Linked DNA regions of Homo sapiens: all the other regions are linked to region 2. The links come from fine-mapping of genetic effects on gene expression. A gene starts in region 2. Each other region holds a variant in brackets. All regions are shown on one strand. Distances are from middle to middle.

Region 1 (2,853 bases), 50 kb after region 2:
CATATTCACATGGCGGCAGGAGAGAGAAAGTGAAGAGGAAAGCACTGCACACTTTTAAACAACCAGATCTTGTGAGAACTCATTCACTATCATGAGAACAGCAAGGGGGAAGTCCATCTTTATCACTCGGTTATCTCCCATCAGGTCCCTCCTCCAACATGTGGGGATTATAATTCAACATGAGATTTCAGTGGGGACAGAGAACCAGACCATATCAAGATGTGTATATAGTAGTTCTATGCCATTTTGTCACTTGTATAGATTTGTGTAACCACCACTGCAATCAAGATACAGAACTATCCTATCATCACAAGGATCTTTCTTGCTAATTCACTGTAGTCACACTCACCTCATCTTTTCCATGATTCCTAACCCCTGGCAACCACTAATCTGTTCACTTTTTAAAGCCCTGGAGTAATTTGTTCAAAGGAAAGCTTTTATTGAGGCCCATTGTATAAAACAACAATAATAACAGAGAAAACAAGGGGAAGAAGGCAAGTGGGATGCTAAGGACTATAACTTGAAAATTCCTGATTGTGTTTATCCTTGAAGATATTAGGAAGCAAGACTTTCACAGAGCATTTTTTAAAAGTTAATAGTGATAAAAGATATTAGACCTAATAATAACCAGAAGCATTTTAGTATAATCTTTTACTGAACTTTTTTGTAGATGTTAACACTCTAATAGTATATAAATCATTTAATAAACTTAGTTTTTTCTGTGTTACTTCCAACTGTCATAATGTATTCCATGAATGTGTAAGATGCCCTAGAATCAGAACAATGTAAGATTGTGGGTTAGTGAACAGTTTACCATCACTAATGGAGGTGTTCTTTTTTTGATGCTTTAGAAGTAAAAAATAATTGGTGAGGCACTCAATCCTGGCCTGTAGTCTTTAGAAATGATATTGATTATTGGAGGCTTTCATCTTTCTGATTTTATTTTTGAACTTAAGAAGTAACTTTGGTTTTCATTTGTTTAGTCCCATGATTGAAAATATGGTGTTTGCTCTCTTTTTTTTTAACTTTTATTTTAGTTTCAGGAGTACATGTGCAGATTTGTTCTATAGATATATTGCATGTAACAGGAGTTGGTGTACATATTATTTTGTCACCCAGATAATAACCATAGAACCCGATGGATAGCTTTTCAATCCTTGCTCTCCTCTTACCCTCCACCCTCAAAGAGGCCCAGGTGACTATTGTTCCCTTCCTCATGTCCATGTC[T/G]GCTCAGGGTTTAGCTCCTACTTATAAGTGAGAACGTTTGGTGTTTGGTTTTCTGTTCCTATGTTAGTTTGTTTAGGACAATGGCATCCAGCTCCATCCATGTTGCTGCAAAGAACATGATCTCATTCTTTTTTTTTTTTTTTTTTTTTCGAGACAGTCTTGCTCTGTCACCCAGGCTGGAGTATAGTGGTGTGATCTCGGCTCACTGCAACCTCTGCCTCCCAGGTTCAAGTGATTCTCCTACCCCAGCTGCCCGAGTAGCTGGGATTACAAGCACCTGCCACCATGCCCAGCAAATTTTTTTTTTTTTAAGTAGAGATGGGGTTTCACCATGCACCATGTTGGCCAGGCTGGTCTTGAATTCCTGGCCTCAAGTGATCAACTCACCTTGGTATCCTGGCGTACTGGGATTACAGGCATGTGCCACTGCACCCAGCCATCTTGCTCTTTTTTATGCCTGTGTAGTATTCCATGGTGTATATGTACCACATTTTCTTTATCCAGTCTGCTGTGGATGGATAGCTAGGTTGATTCCACGTCTTTGCTGCTGTGAATAGTGCTATGATGAACATATGTGTGCATGTGTCTTTATGGTAGAACAATTTATATTCCTTTGGGTATATACCCAGTAATGGGATTGCTGGCTCAAATAGTATTTCTGTGTGTGTGTGGTTTTTTTTTTTTTTTGAGATGGAGTCTTGCTCTGTTGTCCAGGGTGGACTGCAGTGGCACAATCTCGGCTCACTGCAAACTCTGCCCCCCAGGTTCAAGCAAGTCTCCTACCTCCGCCTCCCAAGTATCTGGGATTATAGGCACCCACCACCGCACCTGGCTAATTTTTGTATTTTTAGTAGAGATGGGGTTTCACCATGTTGGCCAGGCTGGTCTCGAACTCCTGACCTCAAGTGATCTGCCCACCTCGGCCTCCCAAAGTGCTGGATTACAGGTGTGAGCCACCATGCCCTGCCGGTATTTCTGTTTTAAGTTCTTTGAGAAGTCGCCAAACTACTTTCCATAATGGCTGAACTAATTTTCATTAGTAGCATATAAGCGTTCCCTTTTCTCCACAACTTTATCACCATGTGTTATTTTTTGACTTTTTAATAATAGCCATTCTGACTGGTGAGATGGTTTCTCATTGTGGTTTTGATTTGCATTTCTCTAACAATTAATGGTGTTAAACATAGTTTCATATGCTTCTTAGCCACATATATGTCTTCTTTTGAAAAATGTCCACATCATTTGCCCACTTTTTTTTTTTTTTTTGAGACACAGTTTCACTGTTGCCCAGGCTGGAGTGCAGTGTGGCACGATCTCAGCTCACTTCAACCTCCACCTCCTGGGTTCAAGCGATTCTCCTGCCTCAGCCTCCGAAGTAGCTGGGATTACAGGTGCCTGCCACCATGCCCGGCTAATTTTTGTATTTTTAGTAGAGATGGGATTTCACCATGTTGGCCAGGCTGGTCTTGAATTCCTGACCTCAAGTGATCTGCCCACCTCCGCCTCCCAAACTGCTGGGATTACAGGTGTTAGCTACCGTGCCCCGCTGGGTGTATATGATTTTATACTTAGAAAACCCCATAGTCTCTGTCCATAAGCTCCTAGATCTGATCAACAATTTAAGCA
Region 2 (2,846 bases):
TAAAAAGTATTCAGCGTTCACTACAAGCCTGAAAACGCCTAGCGTACGCAGATCAACGGTGCAGTGGAGAGGGCACGCCGCCGGATGGCAAAAAACCTGTGTCCTAATCCTGGTTTTGCCACAATCTCGGCAGTTGCTGGGAAATCAAGCCATCTCTCGGAGCTCCGGTTGTCTCCGACGTAAAACAAGGGAGCTGCTGTAGAGGATCCCGAGGTATCTTTTGGCTCCTAAATGTCCCCCGATAGGAAACCCCACACTCGTCTTCCAAGGCGGGAGGCAGGCAAACTTTTTTCCCAGCGCGGGCATTCCACACGGTCCTGGAAACTCAGTGCCCGGAGAAAAGGGCAGGGCTGAGGGCAAGGTGAGAAGCGGTCCCCCCGAAGTCGCCGGATTCCTTTACCCCACGGCTCGAGTCCGCCTCAGGTTCCCGGCCCCCTCACAGGCGGACTCCGGGAGAGTGACGCGGCGCGGCTCCCAGGTGCAGGCCGGGTGACTCTGTCCGCCCCTGCGCCCCCCGCACTAGTGGCACACGCCCCGTGGCCCCGGGTAGCGGCCCCGGCCCCTCACCAGCCCAAGGGACGTCCCCGACTCTGGACCAGGCCTCTGGCTCCCGCCTGGCGAGCCGCTCTTCCGGGCCCTGGGGCGGCCTCAGCGCGGCAGTACGGGCCCCAGGCCGGCGGGACGGGCGGCGTGAGGGGCAGCGGTGGCGGCTTTAAGTGCTGAATCACCACTTTGCAACCCGAGCGCCAAACCGCTGTGACCCACGGGGCCCGAGGGCCCGGGCGCTCCATTCCGCTTACCCACACAGGCGCTCCGGAGGCGGCAGGCGGGCGCCGAGGACTGAGCGGAAGGTGCTGGGCAGTGCGGGGTGCAGAAGCCACGCTAGCCGGTACCGCATTAGCCAGCGCAGTCGCCGGGATCACCGCAAACGCTTCCTGCTTGCGCTTCGAGCCGGCCCTGCGCACTGCGCATGCTCTAGCCGCGGCGCCGCGCGGTCTCCCGGGAGCTGCGGAGAGGTAGCTGCTCCGGGTTTTGCCTGGAGCCGGATGGGGCCAGGACGCAGGCGAGGACGGTGAAGACCGCGGACAGCCGAGGCCTGAGCAGGCGGACTGGAGGGACAGGGGTTTGGCCGGGGCGCTTTAGGAGCCAGCACCCAGACTTTCCCAGGCGGGGAGGGTCCCAGCTAGATCCCACCGGCCGCACTTGTGAGGGTGGCGACGTGTGTCTGACTGTGAGGGGGCGAGGGGCCGCTCATAAATCCAGTGAGGGCACACGGGGCTATGTTTTCTGAGGCACCCCCACTGACTAGCGTGCCGGACCCTGCAGGTGTTGGAACAAGGTTCGTGGTCGCGGCGGCCTCACGTAAAATGAATCCGCGGCCGGCGCGCGGCCCGCGGGCTCCCTCTAGAGCGCGGTGGGGACGTGGACCGCGAAGGCACAGATGCGCTGGAGACAAGGCTCGAGTGCGGCGTGGGGGAAATTCAGACGCAGGGGTCAGCGATAGAGAGGCCAGGACCCAGGGGGACGTTTCCATCCTTGGGGAAGTTAGCAGCTCTCTTAAGAGGAAGGTGCGGATGGGACGGGCGCCGCAGCAAAACAAGGCTTCAAATCCAGAGTAGAAACTACTACTCTTGTTAGTACTCCGTACTAGGAATACTACTAATGTCAGTCGGCTTCAGTGGTTACTTTTTAAACAAAGAATTTTCTCCCCAGTGGCTTTATGGGGCTTTGCACCCACGAACAACTTAATAGTTGTTATGAATCTAACTTTCCATAATACCTTATGGGAGTCTTTAAGGAAGAATGCTATTAGGGATGGTGACTTGCCAGCTTAAGTACTTTTAGGTTTCTGATTGACAGACGATCAAGACTGCAGCCAAAAACGGTGTCCTTAGTCCAAGTATTGCTTTAAATGGGAATTCAGTAGGAGGGTTCCTTAATCAAGTTGATGCTTTATCGAAGACGTACCCACGATCTTTTTAACAGTGCGGTTTCACCTAAAGGCAAACCTTTGGATGAAAACAGGTAAAAATTATGGCAAGCCTCCTAGTGGTGTTTGCAAGTGCATGGTTTTAAGAACCTTTAAATTACCAGTCCCAATGCAGAGTAGTCAATCACCTTGAAGCAGCTCCTCTGAGAGTGTTAATGCAGCCTTTCTGAATACATTTATGCTCCATTAATGGAATCTATAAATGGGCTGGGGTAGATTCAGACTTGGAGGGCTTGAAACATATACAATTTGGGGGACCTCTTTGAGACATAAAATACAAATTATAAATACAAAATTAGCAATCAGAAGATTACTATAGAGAGAAAATACATCACAACAAATACTCGAGACTTGGAGATTAGTACCCTTTTTTTTCCTGAGATCTCTTTAGGCTACTTATTAGAAATGCTTACATAAAAATGCTTCCAGATGGCCGGGCGTGGTGGCTCATGCCTGTAATCCCAGCACTTTGGGAGGCCAAGCCGGGCGGATAACGAGATCAGGAGTTCGAGACCAGCCTGACCAAAATGGTGAAACCCCGTGTCTACTAAAAATACAAAAATTAGCCAGGCGTGGTGGCATGCGTCTGTAATCCCAGCTACTGAGGAGGCTGAGGCAGGAGAATCACTTGAACCCTGGAGGCGGAGGTTGCAGTGAGCCAAGATCACGCCACTGCACTCCAGCCTGGGCAACAAAATGAGACTCTATGTCTCAAAAAAAAAAAAAATGCTTCCAGACAACAACTGGCTTTCCCTCTACAACTCCCAGTTTGGAGCCTGTGCAAGTGAGCAGCCCTGAAGTTTAAACTTCATTAGCTTCATGATAAATTTCCCTCTGGTTGGAGTAGATGTCCTGG
Region 3 (2,500 bases), 100 kb before region 2:
ACATCTCTACTTACTGTCAGGGAGCTGAACTTCTCTATACCGAACCAGCTGACTTGGAAGGAGAGGTTTGGTATGAGCATGTTCAATGAGGGTGTCTTCAACCATCTGCATAATTCCTAATGCAGCCTATGGAAAAAGATATGTCCCAGCATATTACAAAAACATAAACATATCTTGTTTGTGAAATAAACTGGCTTTGTTTATCATAAAAGTGGATTCTAAAACCTTAAATATATTTGATCCTATTCAAATGGATAAAAATTGAATTTGTCAGTATGGTCATTTTGCAATAGAGTCAATATGGTAGTGGTGAAAGAAACAGACACCCAAACAATCATCAACACTGATGCTGATGCTGGAAAAAAGGCACTGCCAAAGATGGTCTCAAGTGAAATGATCCTGACTACAGACACCTGGGGTCACAGAAAAGCAAGGGAGGCAAACATAGGCTTTATTGTAGGTAAAATGACCTTGGTAAGAATCTTGCTTCTGCCACTTATTAGCATCTGACCTTGGGCATATTGTTCTGGAGGGGGTATAGCAGAGTGGTAGAGACCAAGGGATCTTTTCTTTTTTTTTTTTGAGACAGGGTTTCGTTCTGTTACCCAGGCTGGAGTGCAGTGGCACAATCATAACTCACTGCAGCCTCAACCTCCTAGGCTCAAGAGATCCTCTTGCCTCAGCCTCCTGAGTAGCTAGGACTACAGGCATGCACTACCACACCTGGCTGTTTTTCAATTTTTTGTAGAGTTATGTTGCCCAGGCTGCTCTCGAACTCTTGGGTTCAAGTAATCCTCCTGCCTCAGCCTCCAAAGTACTGAGATGATAGGCGTGAGCCACTGCACCCGGCCGAGACTGAGGGATCTTGAGACAGACTGCCACGGAAATTTTGTAGTGCTTTCCATGTGCTAAGTACTTAGCATGTACTATTTAATCCTTACCACACATGACGTAGGTGCTACTGTAACTCTAATTTTACAGAAAAGAAAACAGATAAGCACAGAGTTAAGACATTTTCAAAAGATTACAGATCTAGTATATAGCAGAGCCAGGATTTGAATCCAGGCTGTCTAATTCTACAGCACGTGCTCTTATCTACTATACAATTATGCCACCCTATACAGAGTAGGGATAATTACTCCCATTTCCTCCTATGATTGCACAAGGTAGAAAACAGCAGAGGAGGCAGCCATGAAAGTTAGGTCCTCAGTTAATCACCATCATTCTACTTTCCCTGTGCCCTCTACCTTCCTCCACAGAGCAAGAGGGTTGAGTAAACTCTAATGTGTT[C/T]CTTATCACACCATGCTGGTTAACAATCTTGAGAAAGACTAGAGGGAAAAAATATCTTGCAATGATCCACAAAAGATTGCTAAAACCTCAACCACCCACCTGCTTTGTTATGTTTCCATGGAGAAGGGCTTCAATGTGCAGCCGTGACAGGAGCTGAGGTATGAAGGCCTTAAGGCGAGGAAGGGTTACATCTGCAAAGGTGTAAGAAGACATAGTGAGCGCTACCTATGAGGGATTTTTTGTTTGAGATAATTTGAGACTTACAGAAGACTTGCAAAAATAGTACACAGAGCTCCTGTAAACACTTCACCTAGTTTTCCCTAATGTTAACATCTTTCATAACCATCAAAACTAAGAAATTAACATTGGTATAATACTATTAACTAAAGTACAGACTTTATTTGGATTTTTCCCATTTTTATCTTTTTTTTTATTCCAGGATTTGATCCACAACCCTCCATTACATTTAGCTGTCATATGTCTTTAGTTCCCTCTAATCTCTGACAGTTTCTCAGTCCTTCCATATATTTCATGATCTTAAGACTTTTGAAGAGTACTGTTCAGTTATTTTATAGAAGTCCCACATTTGGGTTTGTCTGGTGTTTTCTCACAATTAGATTTCATGTCTGTATTACCACAAAGAATACCACAAAGGTAATGCGCCTTTCTCACTGCATTCTATCAGGGGACTCATGAAGTTGATATGTTGTAGTACTAGTGATGTTAAAACTGATCACTTGGTTAAGGTGGTGTCTGCCAGATGTCCTCACTGTAAATGTATTATTTTATTCTTTTATTTATAATTTAATAACTCATATGTGCTCTATATGCAATTTGGAAAAGCCCACTTGCCCATCTACACCTATTTTTCCCTTTGTAATTACTAAATATTTATTTTGGGAAAAGTAAATGAGATTATACAAATATTTTCTTTTTCTTTAAATTTGACCCACTAATTTTAGCATCCATTGGTAGTTATTGCCTGTAGCAATTATTACTATGGAGTTCTAATGGCAATTTTTCTATTTCCCTCTTTCTTTTTACATATATTAATTTAATCCTTCTGTAAGGAAGAGCTGTCCCTTCTCCATTAGGACACCATAGTAATAACTGCTACATGCAAGATCTACCAATGGATGCTAAAATCAGTGATAGACATTTAAGGAGAAACATGGGAATGCAAATAACAAGTGCTTACCACAGATCAGGA

Direction of the effects. Positions count from the first base shown, and alleles are read on the strand shown. Sizes are in standard deviations (SD) of each study's normalised expression. Not every link is listed here.
With allele T in place of G in region 1, the expression in fibroblasts of the gene that starts at base 972 in region 2 is lower (small effect, 0.26 SD a copy in GTEx).

The links. PIP is the estimated chance that this variant, and not a neighbour inherited with it, causes the effect. A credible set is the group of variants that fine-mapping cannot tell apart.
Region 1: its variant is the best candidate, but not a certain one, in a credible set for the expression of IDE in fibroblasts (GTEx, PIP 0.71).
Region 3: its variant is the best candidate, but not a certain one, in a credible set for the expression of IDE in nasal epithelium (TOPMed, PIP 0.77).

The regions. Positions count from the first base shown.
Region 1 is chr10:92,622,874-92,625,726 of GRCh38, forward strand. All of the region lies in intron 10 of KIF11 (kinesin family member 11), which reads left to right. Among named protein-coding and RNA genes, the nearest start is that of KIF11, 31 kb to the left of the region's middle. The variant T/G (reference allele first, on the strand shown) is at 1,228.
Region 2 is chr10:92,573,122-92,575,967 of GRCh38, forward strand. It overlaps IDE (insulin degrading enzyme), which reads right to left and starts at 972. Exons shown (of 25, transcript NM_004969.4): 1 at 801-972. The coding sequence starts at 898. RefSeq lists a silencer at 372-821 and enhancers at 1,322-1,381, 1,392-1,631.
Region 3 is chr10:92,468,865-92,471,364 of GRCh38, forward strand. IDE (insulin degrading enzyme) reads right to left here. Exons shown (of 25, transcript NM_004969.4): 18 at 1,390-1,481; 19 at 15-126. Among named protein-coding and RNA genes, the nearest start is that of IDE, 100 kb to the right of the region's middle. The variant C/T (reference allele first, on the strand shown) is at 1,291.